6 separate regions of the Homo sapiens genome follow, and regions 1, 2, 3, 4 and 6 are each linked to region 5. Evidence: fine-mapped expression QTL. A gene starts in region 5. Each other region holds a variant in brackets. All regions are shown on one strand. Distances are between the middles of the regions.

Region 1 (4,085 bases), 74 kb after region 5:
GGGGGTGTGGGTGCCTAAGGGCTCTGCACCATGAGGCTGAGGCGTGGACTCCTCACAGAGTGGTGCGAGTTCTCTCCCTACGAGGTCGGCTTCCCCAAGTACGGGGCCTTCATCCCCTCTGAGCTCTTTGGCTCCGAGTTCTTTATGGGGCAGCTGATGAAGAGGCTTCCTGAGTCCCGCATCTGCTTCTTAGAAGGTGAGGGGCACTGGCAGGCTGGGGAAGCTGGGCCGAGCAGGGAAAATGGGTCCTGGGTGAGAGGGCAGCCTCGGTCAGAAGAGTTTCCTGGGCCAGGACTGGCCATGGGGAAGGGTAGGATTGGGACAAGAGTCGGGGGCCCTCTTCCCTCACGGCCGCTCTTTCAGGTATCTGGAGCAACCTGTATGCAGCCAACCTCCAGGACAGCTTATACTGGGCCTCAGAGCCCAGCCAGTTCTGGGACCGCTGGGTCAGGAACCAGGCCAACCTGGGTAAGTGCTCCGGGCCCTTCATAAGGGTGCCAAGGGGCAGCCAGCTGGGGCTGCACCAGGGGGCGGGGGGTTCACACCTCTTCCCCCTCCAGGGTCACCACCAAGGTGGGGATAAAGGTGCAGGAGTCCCCATTTCCCCCACCTTGCCTGTGTAGACAAGGAGCAGGTCCCCCTTCTGAAGATAGAAGAACCACCCTCAACAGCCGGCAGGATAGCTGAGTTTTTCACCGATCTTCTGACGTGGCGTCCACTGGCCCAGGCCACACATAATTTCCTGCGTGGCCTCCATTTCCACAAAGACTACTTTCAGCATCCTCACTTCTCCACATGGAAAGGTACCTGCTTCTCTCCAAAGTCCTCCTGTGGCCACCTGAGCCTTGAGTCCCCAGTCCAGATACCCCTCACAGTCCACTCCCATTCTCCTGCTTTGAGCTTGATTCCCTGGACTACTTGGAACAGGGGTCTTTTTCTCCTTGTCTTGGGGACCCAGGGCCCACCTGCAGGGCTGTGGGGGTGTTGGTTCAGCAGGAGAGCAGGGACCAGAGGCCAGAGTCTCTCCTTCCAGCAGGAATCTGGTACCCTTGGTATCTGTGACAATTGCTGCTCTCCCCAACCTTCCAGCTACCACTCTGGATGGGCTCCCCAACCAGCTGACACCCTCGGAGCCCCACCTGTGCCTGCTGGATGTTGGCTACCTCATCAATACCAGCTGCCTGCCCCTCCTGCAGCCCACTCGGGACGTGGACCTCATCCTGTCATTGGACTACAACCTCCACGGAGCCTTCCAGGTTGGGAAGGGTGGGCAGCCCACCAGGGAGGCGGTGGGTGGCCCCTGTCCCCTGAAGAGAGGGGCTTTGGAGTCCAGTGTCTGGTTCAGCTTCCTTTAGGAGCTGTGATTGGGACACTGGAATCTTAATTTGCCACCAGAGGAGCTCATTCTTTTCCGGAAGTTGGGAGGCTGGCGAGGTTCTCCTGGTATCTTGTAGCTGGGTCCCCTTTACTGACCTGCGAGGTGTGGTCCTGGGCCTCTGGGCCCACCTGCTGAGTCTGCTTTGGCTCCCAGTGTCAGAACTGGAATGCTGGGAGTAACCCGGCTCCGTCTAGCCCCAGAGGAGCTGCCACCGAGGCCTGTCAGGTGTGGAGAGTTTTTTTCCAACGACTGGCTTCATAGGCCCCACTGGAGACCGTTTTGGCATTTGAGCCCCAGGTCCTGTGCATCTTACGTCAGCCCCAGTGTTGAGGATGCCAGGGGCCCTGTCCCTCTGAAGCCCCTTCTGCCTGCCCTGCAGCAGTTGCAGCTCCTGGGCCGGTTCTGCCAGGAGCAGGGGATCCCGTTCCCACCCATCTCGCCCAGCCCCGAAGAGCAGCTCCAGCCTCGGGAGTGCCACACCTTCTCCGACCCCACCTGCCCCGGAGCCCCTGCGGTGCTGCACTTTCCTCTGGTCAGCGACTCCTTCCGGGAGTACTCGGCCCCTGGTGAGCTGCTGTTCACCTCCCCATCCTGCTGCCCCAGTCCCCCACACCTCCTCCGTCCCCTGTGCCTCTCCAAACCTGTCTTCCCCACAACGTGTTCCCCATGCCAGGCTGCACTCTCTCCACAGGGGTCCGGCGGACACC[C/T]GAGGAGGCGGCAGCTGGGGAGGTGAACCTGTCTTCATCGGACTCTCCCTACCACTACACGAAGGTGACCTACAGCCAGGAGGACGTGGACAAGCTGCTGCACCTGACACATTACAATGTCTGCAACAACCAGGAGCAGCTGCTGGAGGCTCTGCGCCAGGCAGTGCAGCGGAGGCGGCAGCGCAGGCCCCACTGATGGCCGGGGCCCCTGCCACCCCTAACTCTCATTCATTCCCTGGCTGCTGAGTTGCAGGTGGGAACTGTCATCACGCAGTGCTTCAGAGCCTCGGGCTCAGGTGGCACGGTCCCAGGGTCCAGGCTGAGGGCTGGGAGCTCCCTTGCGCCTCAGCAGTTTGCAGTGGGGTAAGGAGGCCAAGCCCATTTGTGTAATCACCCAAAACCCCCCGGCCTGTGCCTGTTTTCCCTTCTGCGCTACCTTGAGTAGTTGGAGCACTTGATACATCACAGACTCATACAAATGTGAGGCGCTGAGACCATCTGTTATTACTGCTGAGAAGGGCCATGTCATTCTAGGCTCTTGGCTGTACATGGCAAGGGCTGGTACAGAGCTCGCTCATCAGTGTTCTTCCTCCGAAGAGCACATTCTCTGCACACGTCTGCGTCTACCTGTGCTCAGAGTCACCCCTTCCAAGCAAGGAGGAGGCCACATGGGCCTGGGGTAGCCCTGGCCTTGCCCACCTGCTCTGCCGTAACACGTCTCCTCTTCACCCAGACAGGAATGCAGGGGGAGGCCAGGCAATGGCTGTTTCCTGCCACATGGTAGGACCCATCTAACCAGAAGGAACTGTCTATTCCAGAAGCTGGGCCTGGGGAACTGGGTTGAAGCAGCCACGGGAAGGAGCCCTTTTGCCTGTAGCTGAGTCTTATTCTGGTCCCTTAGATGTGTCCTCGCTTGTGCCCCTGAAGTTTGGTGTTGCACTGGGGTTCACCTCAGGGATCAGACCTGTTGGGAAAACGGAATGAATTTAGTAGGGTATGGCCACCCCAGAATCTTCTCCAAACAAACACACACTGGTGCCCCTGCCCTCCCCTGGACCAGCCAGCCTCCTAGAATAAGCGTGGGAGTGGATTCCAGAGCTGACTGACAGGCGCTGCAGCAGCGACCACAGTGACGCGTGAGTGGGTGGGAGTTGCCTCGACTTTCATAACCCAACTCTACGTCTGTCAGCTGGCCTAGCAGCCCCAGCCCTGGGTTAGAGACAGCAGAAAAAATGGCTGTCCTGGTAGCCTCAGGAGCCACTGTGTCCAGGACAAGGCCTGTCCCGTCAGCAACACATCATCTAAATCATATATTGGGCTCTGCAGGACTGGGAGCAGATGGTTACACTGGAGACCACAGCCGTGGCTGCCACCCCTCATGGTATGAGCCCTCCAGGCACACGGCTGTATATGCGTGTGCACATCTAGGCACATCCTGGCATGGGGCCCATGCACGGAGGATTTGCCTGTCTCCAGTCCCTCCTCCACTTTCACCTAACCTCAGGTGTCCCCTCCCCCTGGAGAGCCTGAAGCCCTCTGGTTTGGAAGGGAAGGAGATGTGGGTGAGGGGGGTTGAGCATCGAAATGATGCTGGGATCTACAAGGAGGGACTGAGGAGCCAGGTAAGAGCCTCCTGCCCCTGCACATCCACCTTCGCATCTCCTCCCTGGCCTGCAGGCCGGGACATGCTGGACCTCTCCATTGCCATGGAGTGGGGATTGGGGAAAGCAGGGGAGGACCAGGTAGAGAACGGGTTGGAACAAGGGTGGGGCAGGGTCTGGCCGTCCTGCCAATGTGCTGTGCCTTGGAGAGGGGAGAGGAGGGAGGAAAGTGAGGAGTGCATGGGAAACAAACCCAGGCAGGCTCTCAGCACTGGGCAGAGGGAAACCTGGCTGCTCCTCCCACAAGCAGCCGAGCAGGAAGGGCACAGGGAGCCTGGGCAGCTTCGTCTACAGGGTCCCCACACTAGAGCCTGGAGTGAGCCCTGGGAGGGGACCACT
Region 2 (4,071 bases), 59 kb after region 5:
GCAAGCAGGCATGCCAGCTCTTTCTTTTCCAGTATTCCTGGGCCCAGTGGGGTCTTCTCACTCAGTTACAATATTTGATCTAAGAACATTCACTTTCCAACTGATCAGAAAGTAAAGGTGACTGGCATGGTGTGGCTGTGAGAGATGCAGTGTGACCTCAGAGGTGAACATCAGTGCCGGGACCATTTGGAGCAGGATGTGGTAACCACCAAATGGAAACCACGGCCTTTTGGCTCGACCTAGAGCATGAATGTAGCAAAGCGAAGCCCTGTACACTTTATAAAAACCAGCAGAAAGACACTCCAGTCTGAGTGAGCAGCTGGAACAAAGCTCTGCTGAGCTGAACACTCAACAGGACTACCTGCCTGCAGAGAGAGGAGCTATCCTCTTTGCTGAGAGCTGAACACTCGTTGGGACACCCTGGCTGCGGAGAGGAGCTGCCCACTGTGGGTCTCCTCTGAGCTATCCTATGGCTCAGTAAAGCTCCTCTTTGTCTTGTTTACCCTCTGCTTGTCTGTGTGTACCTCATTCTTCCTGGATGCAGGACAAGAATTGGGACCTGCTGAGTGGCGGGGCTAAAAGAGCTGTAACATGAAGAGGACTGAACCATGCGTCTTGCTCGCCACATTGTGGGTGTCCAGAAGGAAAGAAGAACTGCGGCCCTTTGGGGAGTCCAGACCCAGGAGCTTCCCAAGCTGGGGTTCTGACACCCTCTTTAGGGCTCTGCGGTTCCTGGTATCTGCAAGCTTCCAGGCACCACCATGCTTCCCAGTGTCAGCTGTGGAAGCTGCTTATGGTACACCTGGTCTAGCTGCAGCCTTGCAGGAAACCAGCACCTGTGTTGGCACCTGAAGCTGCCTGCCCCACCGCAGCCCACATGCCTAGCTGTGCGCAGTGGCCAAACCCCACACTCATTCGCTCACACACCCCTCGCTGCCCCACTCGCCCTTGGCAGGTGTGGGATCCAGGCCGGTAGCATGAGCTGAGCACAGCCTGCAGGGCCGAGTGGGCCCAATGGGCCCGAGCAAAACAGGCAAAGGCATCACTGGCCACAGAGGTTTCCAGCTGGTAAAGCAACACCCCAAAGATCCCGTGACAGTTTATGGCTGCGGTGAGCTATTATTGCGTCACTGCACTTCAGCCTGGGCAACAGAGCAAGACTCTGTCTCTTAATCTCAGCGAGTACAACAGGAAGATGTACTGAGCCCCAGACCACCCCATCTCTCAAGGTGACTGCTTGGATGGGCTGGCGTGACTGGGAAGGCCTTTGCCACTTTGCTGTCTCCTGGATTCCATATCTACTGGATGGGTGCCATCTTGCCTCTAGCCAGGGAAGCAAGCAGGCACACCAACTCTTTCCTTTCCAGTATTCCTGGGCCCAGTGGGGTCTTCTCACTCAGTTACAATATTTGATCTAAGAACATTCACTTTCCAACTGATCAGAAAGTAAAGGTGACTGGCATGGTGTTGCTGTGAGAGGTGCAGCGTAACCTCAGAGGTGAACATCAGTGCTGGGACCATTTGGAGCAGCATGTGGTAACCACCAAATGGGAACCACGGCCTTCTGGCTCGACCTAGAGCATGAATGTAGCAAAGCGAAGCCCTGTACACTTTATAAAAACCAGTAGAAAGACACTCCAGTCTGAGTGAGCAGCTGGAACAAAGGTACCACCTGAATAGAGGGTGTGTGGCAAGGGCAGGCACGAGACAGGAAATCAGACTGGAAGAGTAGGTTGGGCCTGGTCATGCGTGCCAAGGCAGGCAGCATTCTCTAAGGAGCAGTGGTAAGCCATCAAGGCATTTGTTACTAGGGGTGTGACAATATGAGATTGTATTTTCAGAAGATGACTGGGGCTATGATGATGAATGCTTTGGGTGGGAGTGGAATTAAGCCAGAGAAACCAGCTAGTTCACTACTGCAACCATCCAGCCAGGATACTGGAGACTTTTATTCAACATTAGGCAAATACTTGCTGAGCACATGCTATGTGCTAGGTACTGTTCTAGGTCCCAGGGGTGCATCAGTGAACAGACAACTGTCTCTGCCCTTGTGGAGTTCACATTCTAGCAAGGGTGAAAGAATGATAAACAGTTTATGTAGGTGAAATACATATATATATATATATATATATTTTTTTTTTTTTTTTTTTTTTTTGAGATAAAGTCTTGCTCTGTCACCCAGGCTGGAGTGCAGTGGCACGATGATAGCTCATTGCAGCCTCTACCTCTTGGACTCAAGTGATCCTCTGGCTTCAGCCTCTAGCGTAGCTAGGAGTATAGGTGCATGCCACCATGTCCAGTTAATTTTTAATTTTTTTGTAGAGATGGGGTCTCCCTA[C/T]GTTGCCAAGGCTGGTCTTGACCTCCCGGCCTCAGCAATCCTCCTGCCTCTGCCTCCCAAAGTGCTGGGATTACAGACATGAGCCACCACGTCTAGCCCTAAAATATATAGCATGTCAGATGGTGATGAATGCTAACGAGAAAAAATACGGAAAGGGATATAAAGATTTGCAGCAGGGGGACAGATTATAAATTTAGAAAGTATAGTCAGAGAAGGAAGTCTTATCAATGTGATATTTGAGTGAGGACCCAAAGGAGGTAGCTGGAATGTGGATGCCAGTGGAGGAGAGGAGACGGTGGGTTTGAGAGACATAGGAGACAGAATCAACAGGACTCAGAGCCAATCAGTAGGATGACGGGAGTGAAGGAGAAAGCTGAGTCAAAAAGATTTTGATTAGAGGTGACACAGGGCCACTGTAGACCCCTGCGCAGGCGGCACACCACGCAGCCTGCCGAAGTGTACGTGGTGGCCCTGGGTGTCTGGAGATGGTGATGCTGTTCAGCAGGACCCAAACCATAGCCGAGCCCTTCCTTTTCCTCCATTGGTGTCATCTGGTAGTTTGTCTTCCCGGGTAAGAAGGTTGTAAATTTCTTAAGATGATGATTGTGTCATCCCTGATAGCCCCAGATTAGCCAAGCCAAGTGCTGAGCACATTCCTGGTGCTCAGTAAATGTCACTGTTAAAGGGGGCTTCCCAGAGCCACACAACACCCAGAATAGCCCGTGGCCATGGGGCCTCAGCCTTACTCATTCTGGAGCTCCCAATGCCACTTCCATGGTGGCCTTTCCTGGTAGATGCTAGGAGGCTGGCCTCTCCAGGGTGGGAAGGCATAGGGTCCACTGTGCAGACACAGCCCCACAGGGGATTTGGCTTATGGGCTGGGTAGCAGCCTCTGGCCCTGTGGACGGTCAGGGCCCATGCTGGTGTGTGTGCGTGATGCTTTCTGCTTTCATTTTTCCGTCCTCATCTTTCTATTACTGGTTGTCCAGGGTCCTTTGGTCACCAACGAGCATTTCCCAGTGACACAGCGCGGCCTTTCCAGGGAGGGCATCTCTTGGGCAGGGACTGGGTGCTGCAGACATCAGCCCTTCCATCCCCTGTCTTCTTCTTTCTCTCAGAGCTCTGCGTGCCTCTTGCTGTGCCCTACCTGGACAAACCCCCAACTCCGCTCCACTTCTACCGGGACTGGGTCTGCCCCAACAGGCCGTGCATTATCCGCAACGCTCTGCAGCACTGGCCGGCCCTCCAGAAGTGGTCCCTCCCCTATTTCAGGTGGGAGCTGCCCTGGGGTCAGGTGTGAGCAGTGATTACTGGCATCTGGGCATGGGCTGAGTGTCCATTCCTCTAGAGCCACAGTGGGCTCCACAGAGGTGAGTGTGGCCGTGACCCCAGATGGTTACGCGGATGCCGTGAGAGGGGATCGCTTCATGATGCCAGCTGAGCGCCGCCTGCCCCTGAGCTTCGTGCTGGATGTGCTGGAGGGCCGGGCCCAGCACCCTGGAGTCCTCTATGTGCAGAAGCAGTGCTCCAACCTGCCCAGCGAGCTGCCCCAGCTGCTGCCTGATCTGGAATCCCATGTGCCCTGGGCCTCCGAAGCCCTGGGTGAGTGGAGGTGGGGTGGTCGTGGCCCTGGACAGGGAAGATATGGGAAGGAGGGGGGTCAGCCTGTTTGCCCTTAGGTGATGACCTGGCCTATGGGCTTGGTCCTGTCAGCATCTGGTGCAGCTCACTAA
Region 3 (4,085 bases), 130 kb before region 5:
AGTGAGTATTGTTTTGGGCATAGTGGAAAGATTTGGGCAGTGACAGTGTGGAAAGAACCAGGGTTGAGGACCTACAGATTAGGAAGATAGGTCATGGTTCGTATCATATTGCCTTTGTCTTTGGTGACCTGGGATTATAGAGATCAGAGGGAATGTTGGAAGTTATTGATTGACTTAATTGTCTGGACTTTGCAAGTTGTTTTGGTACTGAAACTGGTTTAAAGATTCAAATAGTATATTACTTGATCTCATAGAGGTGGTAAATCCTTTTTATAAAGTTAGCGTCAAAGGCAACAAAGACTGTATTCTGGGTGAGGGGTTGAATAAGCAGAGTTGAAATCACTTGTTAGGTAAAGGCTCCCAGAAGGAATGTGGTGAAAAGCCGATTGTGTCCAACGACTCCTGTGATGCTTATAGAGGGGCTATAAAGTTCCCCCAGGTTGAGGGGAATGTGGTGACAGGGTTCATTTTAGAATAGAGTGATTATCAGTTTAAAATTGAATGGCTTGTGGATATATGCTAGAAGGAACCAGAAATGAATATCTGTTAGGATACTGGGATATGGGTTACAATTTTTTTTTTTTTGAGGCAGAGTCTTGTTCTGTTGCTCAGGCTGGAGTGCAATGGCGTGATCTCTGCTCACTGCGACCTCCGCCTCCCGGCTTCAAGAGATTCTCCTGCCTCAGCCTTCTGAGTAGCTGGGATTACAGGTGCCTGCCACCCCATCTGGCTAATTTTTGTATTTTTAGTAGAGACGGGGTTTCGTTGGCCAGGCTGGTCTCGAACTCAGGTGGTCCACCGCCTCGGCCTCCCAAAGTACTGGGATTACAGACGTGAGCCACTACTGTGCCCAGCTTTTTTTTTTTTTTTTTTTTTTTTTTTTGGGACACAGTCTTGCTCTGTCGCCCAGGCTGGAGTGCAGTGGTGAGATCTCGGCTCATTGCAACCTCCGCCTCCTGGGTTCAAGCAATTCTCTTGCCTCAGTCTCCTGAATAGCTGGAACTATAGGTGTGCGCTGCCATGCCCGGCTAATTTTTGTATTTTCAGTAGAGACGGGGTTTCGTCATGTTGGTCAGGCTGGTCTCGAACTCCTGACTTCAGGTGATCCGCCTGTCTCGGCCTCCCAAAGTGCTGGGATTATGGGCATGTGCCTGGCCAGATATGGGTTAATTTTTAATTTTAAAATATGCTAGAATTTTTTTTTTTTTGAGACAATCTTGCTCTGTCACCCAGGCTGGAGTGCAGTGTCATGATCATATCTCACTGCAGCCTCTAACTCCTGGGCTCAGGAGATCCTCCTGCCTTAGCCTTCTGAGTAGCTGGGACCACAGGCATGTACCACCACACTCAGTTAATTTTTAAAGTTTTTTTTGTAGACGGGGTCTTCCTATGTTTCCCAGGGGTCTTGCTTGTCTTGAACTCCTGGGCTTAAGTTATCCTCCAACCTTGGCCTCTCAAAGTGTTGGGATAACAGGTGTGAGCTATTTTACCTGGCCTTTCTTTTCTTTTTCTTTTTTTTTTTTTTTTTTTTGAGACAGGGTCTTTCTCTCTTGCCCAAGCTGGAGTGCAGTGGTGTGATCTTGGCTCACTGCAACCTCTGCCTCCTGAGTTTGAGTGATTCTCCTACCTCAGCCTCCCTATTAGCTGAGACTACAGGCGCGTGCCACCATGCCTGCGCCACCATGCCTGCTAATTTTTTGTTGTTGTATTTTTGGTAGAGATGGGGTTTTGCCTTATTGCCCAGGCTGGTCTTGCACTCTTGGGATCAAGTGATCCACCTGTCTTGGCCTCCCAAAGTGCTAGGATTACAGGTGTGAGCCACCACACCTGACCTTTTTTTGATGGGGGTCTCACTGTGTTGCCCAGGCTGGACTTGAACTCCAGGTCTCAAGTGATCTCACATCTCAGCCCTTTCAGCATGAGAATTTGTCCTTCTCTTCCTGGTTGGGGATCATAATGTCTTCTTTTTTTCCCCTCTTGTTATACTATTCTTGTCCCATCCCACTTCTGACTTCACCCTTTTCTTTTGTGTGTTTTTCCTTGTCTTATGGTTTCTTCTCTTGTGTGGCTCTACTATTTTATGGCCCCTTCTCTGGCAATGTTTTAGTTTCTATTCTTGATTCCAGCTCCGTGAGTCTTTTCCTCCCACTTTCCATTCAGTTGAGAGGGAATAAGAGAGTACATTTTTACATTTAAGTCAGAGAATGTTTGTCATTCCTATTTAACTAAACTCTCATAGCACTCTTTCCTCACAAGCTGATGGTTAATTCATAGAACCTTTAGGTCTGTTGGATCCCCCTATCTAATTAGCTCGGCACAGGAGTCAGGAGCATGTAGTTTTTTTTTTT[T/A]AAATTAATTAATTTATTTTTATTATTTTTATTTTTTTAGATGGAGTCTCGCTCTGTCGTCCAGGCTGGAGTGCAGTGGCGCAATCTCGGCTCACTGCAAGCACCGTCTCCTAGGTTCACACCATTCCCCTGCCTCAGCCACTAGAGTAGCTGGGACTACAGGCACCTGCCACCACGCCCAGCTAATTTTTTTTTTGTATTGTTAGTAGAGACGGGGTTTCACCGTGTTAGCCAGGATGGTCTCGATCTCCTGACCTCGTGATCTGCCTGCCTTGGCCTCCCAAAGTGCTGGGATTACAGGCGTGAGCCACCGTGCCTGGCCCCAGGAGCATGTGGTTTTTATGTGGAGTTAGGAGTTGAAGGTGAAATAAGAGGTTCCTTAATCTGCAAGGCATTGTTGGTAGAGCTTTTGCCTTGAGAGATGACTCTGAGTGTGCTGACCAATCTGTCAAGGATGATGAGAGCTAGATTACTGTGCACCAAAGGAGAATGACAGTATCCTTTGGTGGTTTAGAGGAAGGCCAGTGTTTACACAGCAAGGGCATCAAGGCAGGCTTCATGAAAATACTCGACTTTAAGAATGAGGATGATTTCAATAGGAGGAGATTAGGGAGAATGATGCTGGTGAATTTATGGACTACGAAGGCAGAGAGAAGATGCTAAAGCAGCGTAATTATAAATGCAAAGGTTCAGATAAAAAAACCCGGGGAGCATATTTAGGAAATAAGGAGTAGTTGAGTATACAGCAGCAGGAAGAAGGAAAGCTGGGTCCAGAGTATTGAGGCCCTTATATGCTAAGCTAAGGAGTTGAGGTGCAACTTGGTGCTCATTGTTTGTCTTAGAGTTCTCACTAACCTTAAAGTTACTGAGAATTTACAAAGGAGTTGTTGAGCCTAGAGAAGCGATACAGTTTCTTATCGTTGATGTAAGATTGTACATCATTTGAACCTTAGTTTTGTGACATTAGCGTCTAACATTTATTTGTAGGTATTTCCTCTTAGTTTTTTTTTTTGAGATGGAATCTCGCTCTGTCGCCCAGGCTGGAATACAATGGTGCGATCTCGGCTCTCTGCAATGTCTGCCTCCCGGTTCAAGCGATTCTCCTGCCTCAGCCTCCCAAGTAGCTGGGATTACAGGCATACGCCACCACATCCAGCTAATTTTTGTATTTTTAGTAGAGACGGGGTTTTGCCATGTAAGTTAGGCTGGTCTCAAACTCCTGACCTCACGATCTGCCCACCTCGGCCTCCCAAAGTGCTGGGATTATAGGCGTGAGCCACTGCGCCTGCCCTCCTCTTAGTTTTTAAAGTTTTGAGATAAAATTAATGTACTATAAAATTTACCCATTTAAAGTGTATAATTCAGTGGTTTTTAGTGTATTCATAGTAATGCATCCATCACCACAATTTTAGAACATTTCAGCATCCCAGAAAGCAACACTATACTCATTAGCAGTCATTCCCTATTTCTCCCCCAGTCTTCCCAGGCCTAGGTGACTATCAGTCTACTTTCTATCTCTATGGATTGATCTGTTTTGGAACATTTCATATAAATGGAATCATACAAAATGAGGTCCTTTGTGATCAGACTCTTTAGCATGTTTTCAAAGTTCATCCATGTTGTAGCATGTATCCATACTTAATTCATTTTTATGGCTGAATAATATTTCATTGTGTTGATACAGCACATTTTGTTTATCCATTCTTCAGTTGATGAACATTTGGGTTATTTTCATTT
Region 4 (4,085 bases), 93 kb before region 5:
TTCATTCTTTTGCATGTGTGTATCCAGTTTCCCGTCACCATTCATTGAAAAGACTGTCCTGGCCGGGTGCTGTGGCTCATGCCTGTAATCCCAGCACTTTGGGAGGCTGAGGCGGGCGGATCACGAGGTCAGAAGTTGGGGACCAGTGTGGCCAACATAGTGAAACCCTGTCTCTACTAAAAATACAAAAAAAATTATCCGGGCATGGTGGCGCACACCTGTAGTCCCAGCTACTCAGGAGGCTGAGGCAGGAGAATCGCTTGAACCCGGGAGGCGGAGGTTGCAGTGAGCTGAGATTGCACCACTGTCCTCCAGCCTGGGCAGCAGAGCAAGACTCCATCTCAAAAAAAAAAAAAACCACAAAATGAAAAGACTGTCCTTTTCCCATTGAATGGTCTTTGCACCTGTTGAAAATCAATTGCCCACATATGTGCAGATTGATTTCTCAGCTCTCTGTATTCTGTTCGCCTATATGTTTATGTTTATCTTTATGCCAGTGTCACATTATTTTGATTACTAGACATTTTCAAATTGGGCAGTGTGAGACCACCAACTTTGTTCTTATTTTTCAAAATTGTTTTTGCTATTTAAAGCCCCTTGAGATTCCATTTTCTTTTCTTTTTCTTTTTTGAGACTGAGTCTTGCTCTGTTTCCCAGGCTGGAATGCAGTGGTGTGATCTCGGCTCGCTGCAACCTCCGCCTCCTGTGTTTAAGCAATTCTCCTGTGTCAGCCTCCTGAGTAGCTGGGACTACAGGTGCGCACCACTGTGCCCGGCTAATTTTTTGTATTTTTAGTGGAGATGGGGTTTCACCATATTGGCCAGGCTGGTCTTAAACCCCTGACCTTGTGATCCGCCCGCCTTGGCCTCCCAAAGTGCTGGGATTACAGGGATTATAGGCATGAGCCACCGCGCTGGGCCGAGGTTTCATTTTCTACTTCTGAAAAATCCCGTTGGGATTTTGATAAGGATTTTGTTGAATTCGTTCAACACTTTGGGTTGTCTTCCTATTCATGAACATGGGATATCTTTCCATTTTAATTTTTTTCAATAATGCTTTTATGGTTTTCAATGTAAAAGTGTTTTGCTTTCTTAGTTAAATCTATTCCTAAGTATTTTATTCTTTTTGATGCTATTATATATTGAGTGATTTCCTTTTCTTTTTATATTGCCCATTGCTGTTTTGTATTGCATATTGTTCATTGTGTAGAAATACAATTGATTTTTGTGTGTTGAGTTTGTATCCTTCAACTTTGCTGAATTGTTTATTAAGTGAGTGGCTTGTGTGTGTGTGTTGTGTTGTGGGGGGGACTGAGTGCGTTTTTTTTGTGTGTATATGTGGGTTTTTGAAAGTTTCTCTATATAAGATTGCACCATCTATTAAAAGAGATATCTTTACAAACTCCTTGACAATTTGAATATGTTTTTTTTTCTTTTTCTTGTCTAATTGCTCTAAATAGGACTTTCAGTAGTAGGTGGCAAATAGTGGCAAAAGTGGGAGCATTATGGTTGTAGTTTGTCTTTTTCTAGTGATTAGCAAAGTTGAACACCTTTTTGTATTATTTATTGACCGTTGGGGTTACTCAGATGATTGTGTACGTGTGTGTATATTCTTGGACACTGTTTTCTTCCCTTGATCAGTTTGTCTACACGTAAGGCCCAAATCACATTGTTTTAATTGGTATAGCTTTATGATGGTAACTGCCTGACCATGGTCCTACTGTATTCCACCTCTGTGGTAAGGCGTTTTTCTAACTAGTCATTGTTGGTT[C/G]TTTACTTTGATGCATTTCTTACTCTGTCTCTTGAGTATATTGCTCAGGTTGTTGCAGCATTCTTTCTTCTAGTTTTGCCCTTGTCAGAATTATAATTTTTAAAAGGAAATTCAATAATGTTACTAATCTACTTAACTTTTCAGAGGTACACAGTTGCCTTACAATTTAAAAAATTAAGTAAAAATAGTACTATTCTGTTTTAACCCCCCCTGATGCATTGAATAAGAACCCATAGTTGGTCTCCATAGGTTGAAATGCATGGTCCCCAACAAGACTGCACCTAGTTGAGACATTAACCACAACTGGAGATCCTAGGCCACCTGTACTTTTCACCAGTTGGCTACAAATCCTGAGATTCTCACAATCTCTCTCAGGTTCACTAATTCACTAGACTCATAGAACTCAGGAAAACACTGTATTTAGAATTAGAATTTTGCTGTAAAGAATACAAGTTAGGACCAGCCTAATGAGACGTAAAGAACAAGGTCTGGGAGGGTCTCACATGCAGAGCTTCCATGCCCTCTCCCCATGGAAACATATAGGGTACATCACCCTTCTGGGACATCAGTGTGTTCACCAGCCAGGAAGCTTTATTAAGCTTTGGTATTCAAAATTTTGGGGGTTCATTACATAGGGGTAATTGACAAAATCTGTGATTGAACTTAATCTTCAGTTCTTTTCCCCACCCTAGAGGTTGAGCTGGCTCAGAGTCCCAGTTCTTTAATCACAGTGTTGTTGTTTTTGGAGACCAGTGCCATCCTGGATCTATTTAGGGGGTCTACTACAGGTCATGTCATTAGCTTAAACTCAGGTGTGAGCCAGTGGGTTCATGAATGACAGTCCCTTCTGTCACTCTGGAAATACCAAAGATTTTAGAAGCTTTGTACCAGGAACCCTGGACAAAGACCAGACAAGCTCATTATACAGCAAATACATAATACATAATGTAAAAAGATTAAATAAAACCACTTATGATGAAAAATAGTAGTGACTTGGCTTTACCATTTTTCACCCCCTAGTTTTCTTTATAGAGGAAATTAGTTTTTCCATTTTAGCTATTTCTTGTGGTATTTGCCTCTGTCTAGGTCATATGCATAATGCCAAATAATTATCAATTTTACATGTAATCCATTTAAAATTATTTTCTAGTACAATATATGGGCCGTTTAGTTGTTACTGTTTTTAAATCCTTGTAGTATACTCTGTTTTTTTTTTTTTTTAATTCTGTTAGTGTCATTATCATAATTTTTGGTCAACTAATTTTTCTTTCTTTTTGAGACGGAGTCTCACTTGGTTGCCCAGGCTGGAGTGTAGTGGGTGATCACAGTTCACTGCAGCCTCAACCTTCCAGGCTCAAGTGATCCTCCCACCTCAGCCTCCCGAGTAGCTGAGACTATAAGTGTGTGCCTCCTCGCTTGGTTAATTTTTTTATTTTTGTAGAGATAGGATTTCACCATGTTTCCCAGGCTGGTCTTGAACTCCTGTGCTGAAGTGATCTTCCTGCCTTGGCCTCCCAAAGTGCTGGGATTACAGGTGTGAGGCACCATGCTTGGCCAAATAATCCATTTTTTTATGTTATGAGATAAATATTCTATACTGCTGAGCCAAATGTCATGCTATGAGTTAATTTTCTTTTATAACTTTGTTTTGTAGTAGTTAATTATTGCTTTTTTAAAAAATATATTTGTAGTTTATATGTACTGGTGCTTATTCTACCCACATTTGTTTTTTTGTTTTTCCGAGATGGAGTTTTGCTCTTATTGCCCAGGCTGGAGTGCAATGGTGCGATCTCGGCTTACTGCAACCGCTGCCTCCCAGGTTCAAGCGATTCTCTTGCCTCAGCCTCCGGAGTAGCTGGGATTACAGGCATGTGCCACCATGCCCGGCTAATTTTGTATTTTTAGTAGAGATGAGGTTTCTCCATGTTGGTTAGGCTGGTCTCGAACTCCTGACCTCAGGTGATCTGCCTGCCTCAGCCACCCAAAGTGTTGGGATTATAGGTGTGAGCCACTGCACCCCCCTTCTACCTACATTATTTAATAAAATCTTTTGGTTCATTCATACACATACACACACACGTACATATATGTGCATACACATATTCATCTATTGAAAGTAAATTTTTGTGTGTACCTCCTCTGCATACTTCTTCGGGAGCTCTTTATTCTCCTTTGCCAATCTGATCTGGTTGTACTCTAGGCCCCTACCAAGCTGCCATCTTGGGATTTTCCTTTGCTATCATCCTGCTAACTTTACATTTGCTATTTTCATATAGGTTCTTTTTATTTATTTATTTATTTTTTTGAGATGGAAT
Region 5 (4,085 bases):
GGTGGTTTTGTTCTGCAAACATCATAGAGTGTACTGTACTTAAACAAACCTAGATGGTGTTGCTTAACCACACACCTAGGCTGTGTTGCTCCTAGGCTACAACTCTGTACAGCATGTTAACTGCACTGAATATCATAGGCAGTTGTAACACGTGGTGTTTGTGTGTCTACACATAGGAAAGGTATGGTAAAAATATGATATTATAATTTAATGGGATCATGTGGTCATTGAAATGTATACAGTGCATGACTGTAAATCTGAGTGGAGAAAAGTGAATAATGCTTCTGTTCACATTAGACCTGGGACTGTTATTTTCTGAGGAATTAATGAAGAATGGGAATAGCCTATATAGCTTATTCCTATATTGGTATCTCAAAGGCAGTGTAGTACCTAGACAATAAAAGTTGGACTGAATTGTGAAGAATTAAAAATGTGTGGGCCGGGCATGGTGGCTCACGCCTGTAATCCTGGCACTTTGGGAGGCCAAGGCAGGCGGATCACGAGGTCAGGAGATCGAGACCTCCTGGCCAACATGGTGAAACCCCATCTTTACTAAAAATACAAAAATTAACTGGGTGTGGTGGCGCGTGCCTGTAATCCCAGCTACTCGGGAGGCTGAGGCAAGAGAATGGCTTGAAACCAGGAGTCGGAGGTTGCAGTGAGCTGAGATCGCCACTGCAGTCCAGTCTGGGGACAGAGCAAGACTCTGTTTAAAAAAAAAAAAAAAAAAAAAAAAAAAGCGTGGCTTTGGCCTAAGACTGGAAGTACCCAGATTCCAGACTTAAGAAATCCTCATTAAAATGCTTTCAGTTGTTTTTCATGAAAGAAATGACCAGTGATACTTTGTAAACCATTTATCTGGCCATGAGTGATCAGGTGAGAAAACCGTTAGCGGACACCAGAATGATCTGGAGAGGATTAGGGACGGCTCTTGTGGGCACATTTTTACTCTAGTTTCATGGGTGGAGATGGCATCTGCCGTGGTCTGCAGCATGCAAGTAAAGACACCAGGTGGCACCATTTATTAGCTTTCAATCCCATGGAGAGGTCCCATCATGTAACTACCAAGAGGTTGAAGGAACCAACTACCTCTTGCATATTGTAGCTAATGGTTCTTGCCTTCTTCTTCCAGACTTGGGAAATAAATTTGAAAATCGTATTTTCTGTTTCATAATATTTGCAGTGCATGGTTGAAGGGAAGAAGGCCACGTGCTATTGCCAGTTGGTCTCCAGGAGGTGACATCCATCATCTCCATGTCAACTTGTGAGCTTTACAAATCTAATTTTCAGTACGTGGCTACAGTATACACAAGAAAATATGTGCTTTGCCACTTGGCTCTAAAGGCTCACCGTTGTACACAAGCAATGAGTTTAGGGGTTCTTCCCTCTTGTTATCACATGTCATCTCCACAGGGTTTCAAAAGATCTGGATAGGGTGAGACAGACACACCAGTGTAGTACTCCCTTGGGTCCCTTGTCTTTGGCTTAGGCTTTTTCATAAGGTATAATAATTTGTTAGAGGTTCTTCCCTCTTGCAGACACATGTCATCTCCACAGGGATTCAAAAGATCTGGATAGGGTGAGACGGACACACCAGTGTACTATTCCCTTGGGACCCAAGTCTCTGGCTTAGGCTTTTTCATAAGGTGATTTCTTGTGGTAGTAGTCAAGTGGAGAATACTCAGGAAATACTATTTCATGTAACATTTCCGTGTATTCCCTCTGCCTCCCCCGACATGAGTTAGAAAACTACCCCTCGATCTAGTATCAGCAAGCTCGACAGTGACCTCAGCAAGGAACAGCCCTAGATAAAAGGATTCATAAGTAAATGGAATGAGGAAAAGATCTGGAGCAACAAAGTCCTGGTCAGCTTTAGGTGAGGAAGCACAATGGGATGTTGGAGGCTAAAGAAGCCATGAAACCTAAAGTATTATAACATAGCATATTCACTTCTCTTTCCCCCGCACGCCCAAAGCTCTGTTCAAGGCCACCCTTTCCCCTTTCATGATGACCAGGTTGCCCAGTGCAAAAATACTGTTCTTAGCTATTAAATTGCATTACTCAGAATAATCCTTTCCACGTTGAGTCTACGTGCCGGACTGGCTGCGAGCAGAAACTACTTCAGTCGCTTTAAATCTCAACACTTGTGGTCGCTGGGAGCAGAGCTTTTAGGCTGTAGCTCAGTCTTGTAATTCTGAGCTAGGAGTTTCAGCTACGGTCCCTCGGGCCTATCAGATGACAACCTTAACACCCTGGAGGCGTGGTTATCGTCTTGGGGCTCTGGGAAGTGCAGTTCCATGGGGGACCAGGCCTGATAATACCATAAAAGGCTTGGTTCTCTCAATTCTGAAGCCATGTTCTGTTGACCTTCCTCTAAAAGCGGTACCCGCAATTGTGCGGATTCCGTGGTTCCCTAGTCCCAAGCCGTCTGCTTCCTGGGCCCTTTCATTGGCTCCGCCCCCGTAAACCTTGCTCGTCCACTCTGGAAGCGCTCTCCTGACTACAGGCCGCGCCCCTCGCGTCGGCTCCGCCCACCCAGCCCGCGGCTTGGCCCAGGCGGTAGTTCGCGTTTTGAGCCGATCGTGCCACCATAGCTCCTGCTGCTGCCTCTACCGCTGCGGCTACCGCGGCGGAGCTGAAATTGCCGAACGCGATGCCCGAGGGCGCTGTGAGCGGGGTGGCCTTAGCTCGCCGAGGCTGGTGAGGCTGGGCCCGAACGGGGGCGCTGACGAGTAGCAGGGGCCTCAGAGGCGGGTGAAAGATAAAGGTCCAGAGCCGCTGTGGAGGGCGGAGAGCGAGCTCTGGAGGATAGGGAGTGGGGGAGGGAGGCTCCCGTGGCAGAACGAGTTGTGGGCTACGGCGAGCCCCGCCGCGTCCCCGCCGGCGCTAGCGCAGGTGTCCAGGCCTGCGGAAATCCCTGGTGGTCTCGGCGGCCTCCTCCCTTGGACACTACAGTTGCCATGGGAACAGTTGGGCATTAACGGGAACCAGATCGTCCACGAGACCAACTGGGGCCCATCCCATCCATCTCGCCAGTTAAACGCCTCTGGCGGGCGTGGGCCTGGCATTTCTTCGTGGCTTAGGATTTTCCCCCCCTTTTTCGTGAGCCTTTCCTTCCGACGTTGTAAGAAACTGTGCAGGGCTAGAAGGTGGGGATGAGGGAAATGGTGAGAGCAATACCCAGAGGTAAAAGCTGCAGACTTCGCTAGGCAGAAGGTAAGACACTGTGATACTAAGGTGGCTTCTGCCATCTCAGGTCAGTGAGAGGGCATACTGGGAAGCCCTCTGGAGTGGGAAGACAGTGCCGCTGTTGAGACAAGACCCAGGACTGGGCCGGGGACTGTCCCAAAGGGTTTCTCGTCATAATGGCTGTGGAAGGGTCAACCATTACCAGCCGGATCAAGAATCTGTTGAGATCTCCATCCATCAAACTGCGCAGGAGTAAGGCAGGAAACCGACGAGAGGACCTCAGCTCCAAGGTGAGTCCTGTTGGGATCCACCTCTTTCCAAACCCACCCTCTCCTGCTCCATGTTCCTCGTTAACCTTCCTGTTTCTTGGGAAAGATAACTAGAAGCCCTTGTTGACTCTAAAGGATCACATATGATCTCTGCAGGCAATGATTTGGTTTTAGGTTGAAGGAAAAAGAGCAGCAGGGGTGGGCATGCTGAGATTCATCCATGAGAAAAGGTGAATAGTAGGAAGACCACCTGGGTTCAATTGTGGCCTCACTATACACTAAGCATGTGCTTGGGAAGCCAGTTGATATGCTATGACTCAGTTTCCCTTCTTGGGAGAGGACAGTAGGAACACATACCTTGTGAAGGGCTAAGCTGTGACTAATGTAGCTGCAGGTGTTAACGTAACAGCTGGGGTTATGTAAGACTGTAGTGGCAGAAAGAAATATGCTAAAACACCTAGTCAGAGTTACTGGCTTGGTAATTGCTCTTGCCTACGGTGAAAACAAATTTTTTTTGTCTCTTCAAGAGGCTAACTGGAGCCTTTTGGCTTCTTAGGAATAACATGCAAGAAGCCAGATATCTGTCAGCAAAACAGTTCTGGATGGCCCTTGAGCATTGCTTATCTC
Region 6 (4,085 bases), 97 kb after region 5:
TTGTTCTCTGAATTACTAATTTAACCCTTACAGTCTTCTGCTGATTTGTGTACAACTATACAAGATTGGTGCTGGAGGGACTTCAGGCCCTTGTCCAAATGTCTCATTGCATGGAGGAAGGAAGGGTAAATGGCAGAAAGAGTCTTGTAAACTCTAAGTGCATGACAAACCCAGGGTTAAGTGCCTTGCTCAAGCTCACACTGCTAGCAAATCAGCAGAGTTAGGTCCCTAAACTCAAGCCTTTTTGCAGTGTCAGTTTGGGCCTCCTGGTCTGCCAGGTCCCAGGACAGTGGGATGCCGGGGACACCCCGTGGCCAGGACCTACTGTCCCAGTCTGATTCTCTGGGTTTCGGGCTCATCTCCCCAGGAAGCAGGGCTCCATGAGGGCAGCAGTTCCACTTTCCATAGCTTCTATATTGCCCTCCTCTCTCCACCCGTGGCTTCAGCAGGGAGCTGAAGACAGACATTAAATAGATACTGACTGATCCAGAGGTCACTGTCTAACATCTGGGTCTCCAGTTATGAGCTTTCCTGGGCAGTTCTTACTCCCAGCCCTGTCTGGGACCCTGCATGACTGCCCTGCCACTCACCTTGCTGGCACTGACCCAGACCCTAAGGTGTCACTGCTATGCCCATGTGCTCAGCCCCTGACCAGCCAGACTGACATCCCGTGTGCTCGTGCTCTCCCACCCAAGTCCATGCTTGTTCTCCCTCCGGAGCTGGAGGGCCTCATGCGTGCATGCCCATGCATGGTGCAGCACACACACATGCACACACACACCACCCAAAGGGCAGGAGCCCTCACCGCCGTGCGGAAGCGGGCCAGGAGGCGTGCCCGCTCCAGCTGGGCCCTGCGCTGCTCCATGCGTCGCTGCAGCACTGCCCACGCCTGCGTCACAGCTTGCTGCCTCTGCTGCACCGCATGGGCCTGAGGCCCCGGACACAGCTTCTGCACCCTGCCTGCAGTCTCCAGCAGTTCCTGCAGCTGCGGGAGGGGCAGGGAATAGGGAGGCAAGGGTCATGTCCTCCTGATTATCCCACAGATGTATCCCTTGCCTGGGAACTCTGGCCCCCTTGGGCCACGTCCTGCCATGCACAGGAGGCCCATGGGAGGCCCTGAGGGACAGTGGAAAATCTAGAGGAACAGGCAGGCCAGCCTGAGGGGGCTGCAGGGGCCTGGGTCGGAGAGGCAGCCAGCTGGGCTCACCTGCCGCTCGGTGCCCACGAGTTCTCGCTCCAGCCCCTGGTGGCTTCTCAGCTGCGCCTCCAGCCCACACAGGTCCCGTGCCACATTGTTGGGGAGGCTCGTGGCTTTCTCCTGAGGAAGGGAGAATGCCGAGGAGATGAGGGATGGAGCGTGGGCACTGAGCCTGGAGTGTATCCACTTCTAGCCACCCCTCCGGCTCACACCTGGACCTGGGTGAGGACTTCCAAGAGATCTCTGTGAACTCTGAGGGTGGTCTCGGTGTCTCGGAGCGCGTGGCCTCGGGCCTGGGTCAGCTCCCACAGCTCCGACCAGGCGGTCCTGCCCACGGCGTGTGGAAGACCAGCCGGGGATCAGCTGCCGGGCCGTGTCATTCCTCCCTCCCGCTAGGTCTGGTCAGCCCGCTCCTCTCTGAGTTGTATCGGGACTTGCCCAAAGCTCCTCCTTCTTAAAACCTCTCCCGCCTGTGGCCCTGCCTACGCACCTTCTTCCTGGGAGCCTGTCTTCTAGCTTTACCAT[G/T]AATTCAGTGCTTTGCTGCTGTAATGCTCGGCACTGCATGGTATCTGTGCTGTGATACTCTTTACATCCTGTGCTTTGACTCACAGTGCGTCACCCAGGTTATGATCACAGACGCTTTGTGGGCAGAGGCCACATCTCTCCGTTCCTCGCTAACTCTGCAACTGGCTGAGCTCCTAAGGCTTCTGCCAGGCCAGGCTCTGGGCTAGGGGTTATGAGCAAGTCATGACCTTGCCTCAAAGCTCACAGGCTGGGAGTGGATCCAAATCAGCCAAGTGGACAGCTAGGAACCACACGAGGCATGGGCTGTCCCGAGTGAGCACAGGAGCTGGGGTAGCTCAGGGGAAGGCCCTGATGTCTGGCCCCACCATCTTCCCACAGCTCCTGCTCTCAATCCTGGGGGCAGGACTCTGACCTGCACACCCAGCCTCACCTTCCTTCACAGACCAGAGCCTGTGGCGGGCTCAGCTTCTCTGGAGCTAGGCCCCCTGCAGAGCCCCGTGGGCAGCCAGGGCCAGTGTGGCCCTCACAGCATGCCATCCTCTCTTACCACTCTGGGCCCTGCCTGCCCAGCTCCTTCCCCCAAACCCCATGCTGGCCTGGCCCGTTGGGCACTCACTGCAGATCCTGCTGCCTCTGACGGACCATGGGGCCAGCACTGTGCCCACGCTCTAGCAGGCTCTCCGCCAGCAGCCGGCAGGCGGCCACCCGCTGGCTGCCCATCTCCACTTGGTGCTGAAACTTTGCAAACTTGGTGCAGAGGTGCTGAGAAGAGGGGAGTGGGTGACAGGGTAGCCCCCAGCTGGTTAGGCGTCAAGCAGCCTGGGAATCGAGGCACCTCAGTGCCCAACTGGGTGATGTGGGCTTGGATAGCCACGGCGTCTGCCCGCTCCACTGAGGAGGCCCCACCTCAGCCAGGGCTCACCGCTCTGCTGCCACCTTCTTCCTCCGCCCCGCCAGAGCCAGCTTCCCCACCCCATAGGCTCTGCCTCAGGGCACCCTCCTTGACCCTGGCCCTCTTCTCACCAGGGCGTGCTCGGGGTCCTCTCCCAGGCTCTCCCCTCCTTTGGCTGCCTGCTTCTGGCTTGCCAGCCAGCCCTGCAGGTCCTCAGCCTCCCTCAGGAACTCATGCAGCCTCAGGGTCCCCTCCAGTTCCCGGTCCCTGTGGTAACAGTCCGTGGTTCCCCAGAAGTGAGTTGCCCACCCCCCTGGGGGCCAGTCGGGCCAGCCAGAGGGGCCAATCTGAAAACTGGGGTTACTCATGGTCTCTGTCCAAGCCTGCGGCTCACGATTCAGGGAGTAGTAGACACAGCAGTGCAGGTGTAGGGGCAGAGGAGGGTGTGGACGTGGGGAGATGGACTGCAGGGAGTTGTGGGGCCTCACTGAAGAATTTATGGAAAGAGGTGAGCAACACACACCCTTTTCCCAATGCATCTCTACAGCCTGGGGTCATGGGTTCTGATTGACTTTGGGCCATGGCATGGGAACAGTCAGCTGTGGCTAGGCCTCCTGTACCCACTGATGAGAGGGGTTATGGTGTCCTCACCGTGTGGCCGCCAACTCCTGCAGTGCCCGCAGCTGCTCCCGGAGCCTCTCCTGCACCACACGCTGCTGCTCAGGGACTTCGGGGCCAGTGAGGGTTTGGGCCGTCTGGTCAAGCTCCTCCATGGAGCTCCAGTAAATGGCTAGTTCCTCCTGTAGAGCCTATGATGCATGAGGACCCATGCCAGGCTCAGCCTGGGTGACTCATCCACCCACCTGTCCGTCCCCCACCCATCCAGTCACCAATCCTCATCCATTCACCCACCACTCACACGCCCATCCATCTACCTCAACTCATTCATCCACCCACCCAGCATCCATCTACCCATTACTGATGGAGTAAGTACTTATTGTTCCATAAAGTGAACACCTGGTCTGTGCCCACTGAGGGCTCATTATTTAGCAGGGAAAGGTGAATGCTGGCTAATCTGGGCCAAGGAAGGGAGGGCACAGGAGGCATTAGACTGGACCCCAACATCCATGTGTAAGAGAGAGGCAGAGTTAAACAAGCTGTCCAGTATAGCCGGGAGATGGGTGCTCCGTGAGGCCAAGGCTACAGGCCTTTAGAAAGACCTTCTCTGAAGGTCCTGTCGCAGAACACACTGGAACTGGGGCTGTGCAGGAAACATGCCCAGACAGGAGGACAGTTCAGTGACAGCAGGAACCGGGACTGCCGTGGGCTCCAGGCTTTGAAGCTTGTGTGGTTCTGGGAGTCCGAATTCAGGAGTGAGGAAGGGGACTTCGAGACCTCCCTCCCTTCAGCCAGGGGATGTTTGTGGGAGGAGGTCGGCTTCATGAAGGGCATTTGGTTAACTCAAAGGAT

Alleles and levels. Positions count from the first base shown, and alleles are read on the strand shown. Sizes are in standard deviations (SD) of each study's normalised expression. Not every link is listed here.
With allele T in place of G in region 6, the expression in cerebellar hemisphere of the gene that starts at base 2,574 in region 5 is higher (small effect, 0.37 SD a copy in GTEx).

Evidence for each region.
Region 1: its variant is fine-mapped to the expression of MAPKBP1 in whole blood (TOPMed, PIP above 0.99).
Region 2: its variant is fine-mapped to the expression of MAPKBP1 in whole blood (TOPMed, PIP above 0.99).
Region 3: its variant is fine-mapped to the expression of MAPKBP1 in whole blood (TOPMed, PIP above 0.99).
Region 4: its variant is fine-mapped to the expression of MAPKBP1 in whole blood (TOPMed, PIP above 0.99).
Region 6: its variant is fine-mapped to the expression of MAPKBP1 in cerebellar hemisphere (GTEx, PIP above 0.99). The same link has a PIP of 0.9 or more in cerebellum.

The regions. Positions count from the first base shown.
Region 1 is chr15:41,845,580-41,849,664 of GRCh38, forward strand. It overlaps JMJD7-PLA2G4B (JMJD7-PLA2G4B readthrough), which reads left to right. Exons shown (of 25, transcript NM_005090.4): 20 at 59-196; 21 at 364-468; 22 at 624-803; 23 at 1,090-1,256; 24 at 1,758-1,944; 25 at 2,070-2,564. The coding sequence ends at 2,281. It overlaps PLA2G4B (phospholipase A2 group IVB), which reads left to right. Exons shown (of 20, transcript NM_001114633.2): 15 at 59-196; 16 at 364-468; 17 at 624-803; 18 at 1,090-1,256; 19 at 1,758-1,944; 20 at 2,070-2,564. The coding sequence ends at 2,281. SPTBN5 (spectrin beta, non-erythrocytic 5) reads right to left here. Exons shown (of 68, transcript NM_016642.4): 68 at 2,567-3,049. The coding sequence ends at 3,037. Among named protein-coding and RNA genes, the nearest start is that of PLA2G4B, 8.8 kb to the left of the region's middle. The variant C/T (reference allele first, on the strand shown) is at 2,086.
Region 2 is chr15:41,831,284-41,835,354 of GRCh38, forward strand. It overlaps JMJD7-PLA2G4B (JMJD7-PLA2G4B readthrough), which reads left to right. Exons shown (of 25, transcript NM_005090.4): 2 at 3,457-3,610; 3 at 3,687-3,940. It overlaps JMJD7 (jumonji domain containing 7), which reads left to right. Exons shown (of 8, transcript NM_001114632.2): 2 at 3,457-3,610; 3 at 3,687-3,940. Among named protein-coding and RNA genes, the nearest start is that of JMJD7-PLA2G4B, 5.2 kb to the left of the region's middle. The variant C/T (reference allele first, on the strand shown) is at 2,339.
Region 3 is chr15:41,637,178-41,641,262 of GRCh38, forward strand. It overlaps a transcript of MGA not described here. Among named protein-coding and RNA genes, the nearest start is that of MGA, 21 kb to the right of the region's middle. The variant T/A (reference allele first, on the strand shown) is at 2,349.
Region 4 is chr15:41,678,424-41,682,508 of GRCh38, forward strand. All of the region lies in intron 2 of MGA (MAX dimerization protein MGA), which reads left to right. Among named protein-coding and RNA genes, the nearest start is that of MIR626, 11 kb to the right of the region's middle. The variant C/G (reference allele first, on the strand shown) is at 1,771.
Region 5 is chr15:41,771,911-41,775,995 of GRCh38, forward strand. It overlaps MAPKBP1 (mitogen-activated protein kinase binding protein 1), which reads left to right and starts at 2,574. Exons shown (of 31, transcript NM_014994.3): 1 at 2,574-2,700; 2 at 3,257-3,479. The coding sequence starts at 3,366. RefSeq lists an enhancer at 2,021-2,070.
Region 6 is chr15:41,869,036-41,873,120 of GRCh38, forward strand. It overlaps SPTBN5 (spectrin beta, non-erythrocytic 5), which reads right to left. Exons shown (of 68, transcript NM_016642.4): 27 at 3,267-3,424; 28 at 2,747-2,882; 29 at 2,340-2,485; 30 at 1,411-1,525; 31 at 1,208-1,318; 32 at 806-985. Among named protein-coding and RNA genes, the nearest start is that of MIR4310, 4.5 kb to the left of the region's middle. RefSeq lists a silencer at 719-979. The variant G/T (reference allele first, on the strand shown) is at 1,724.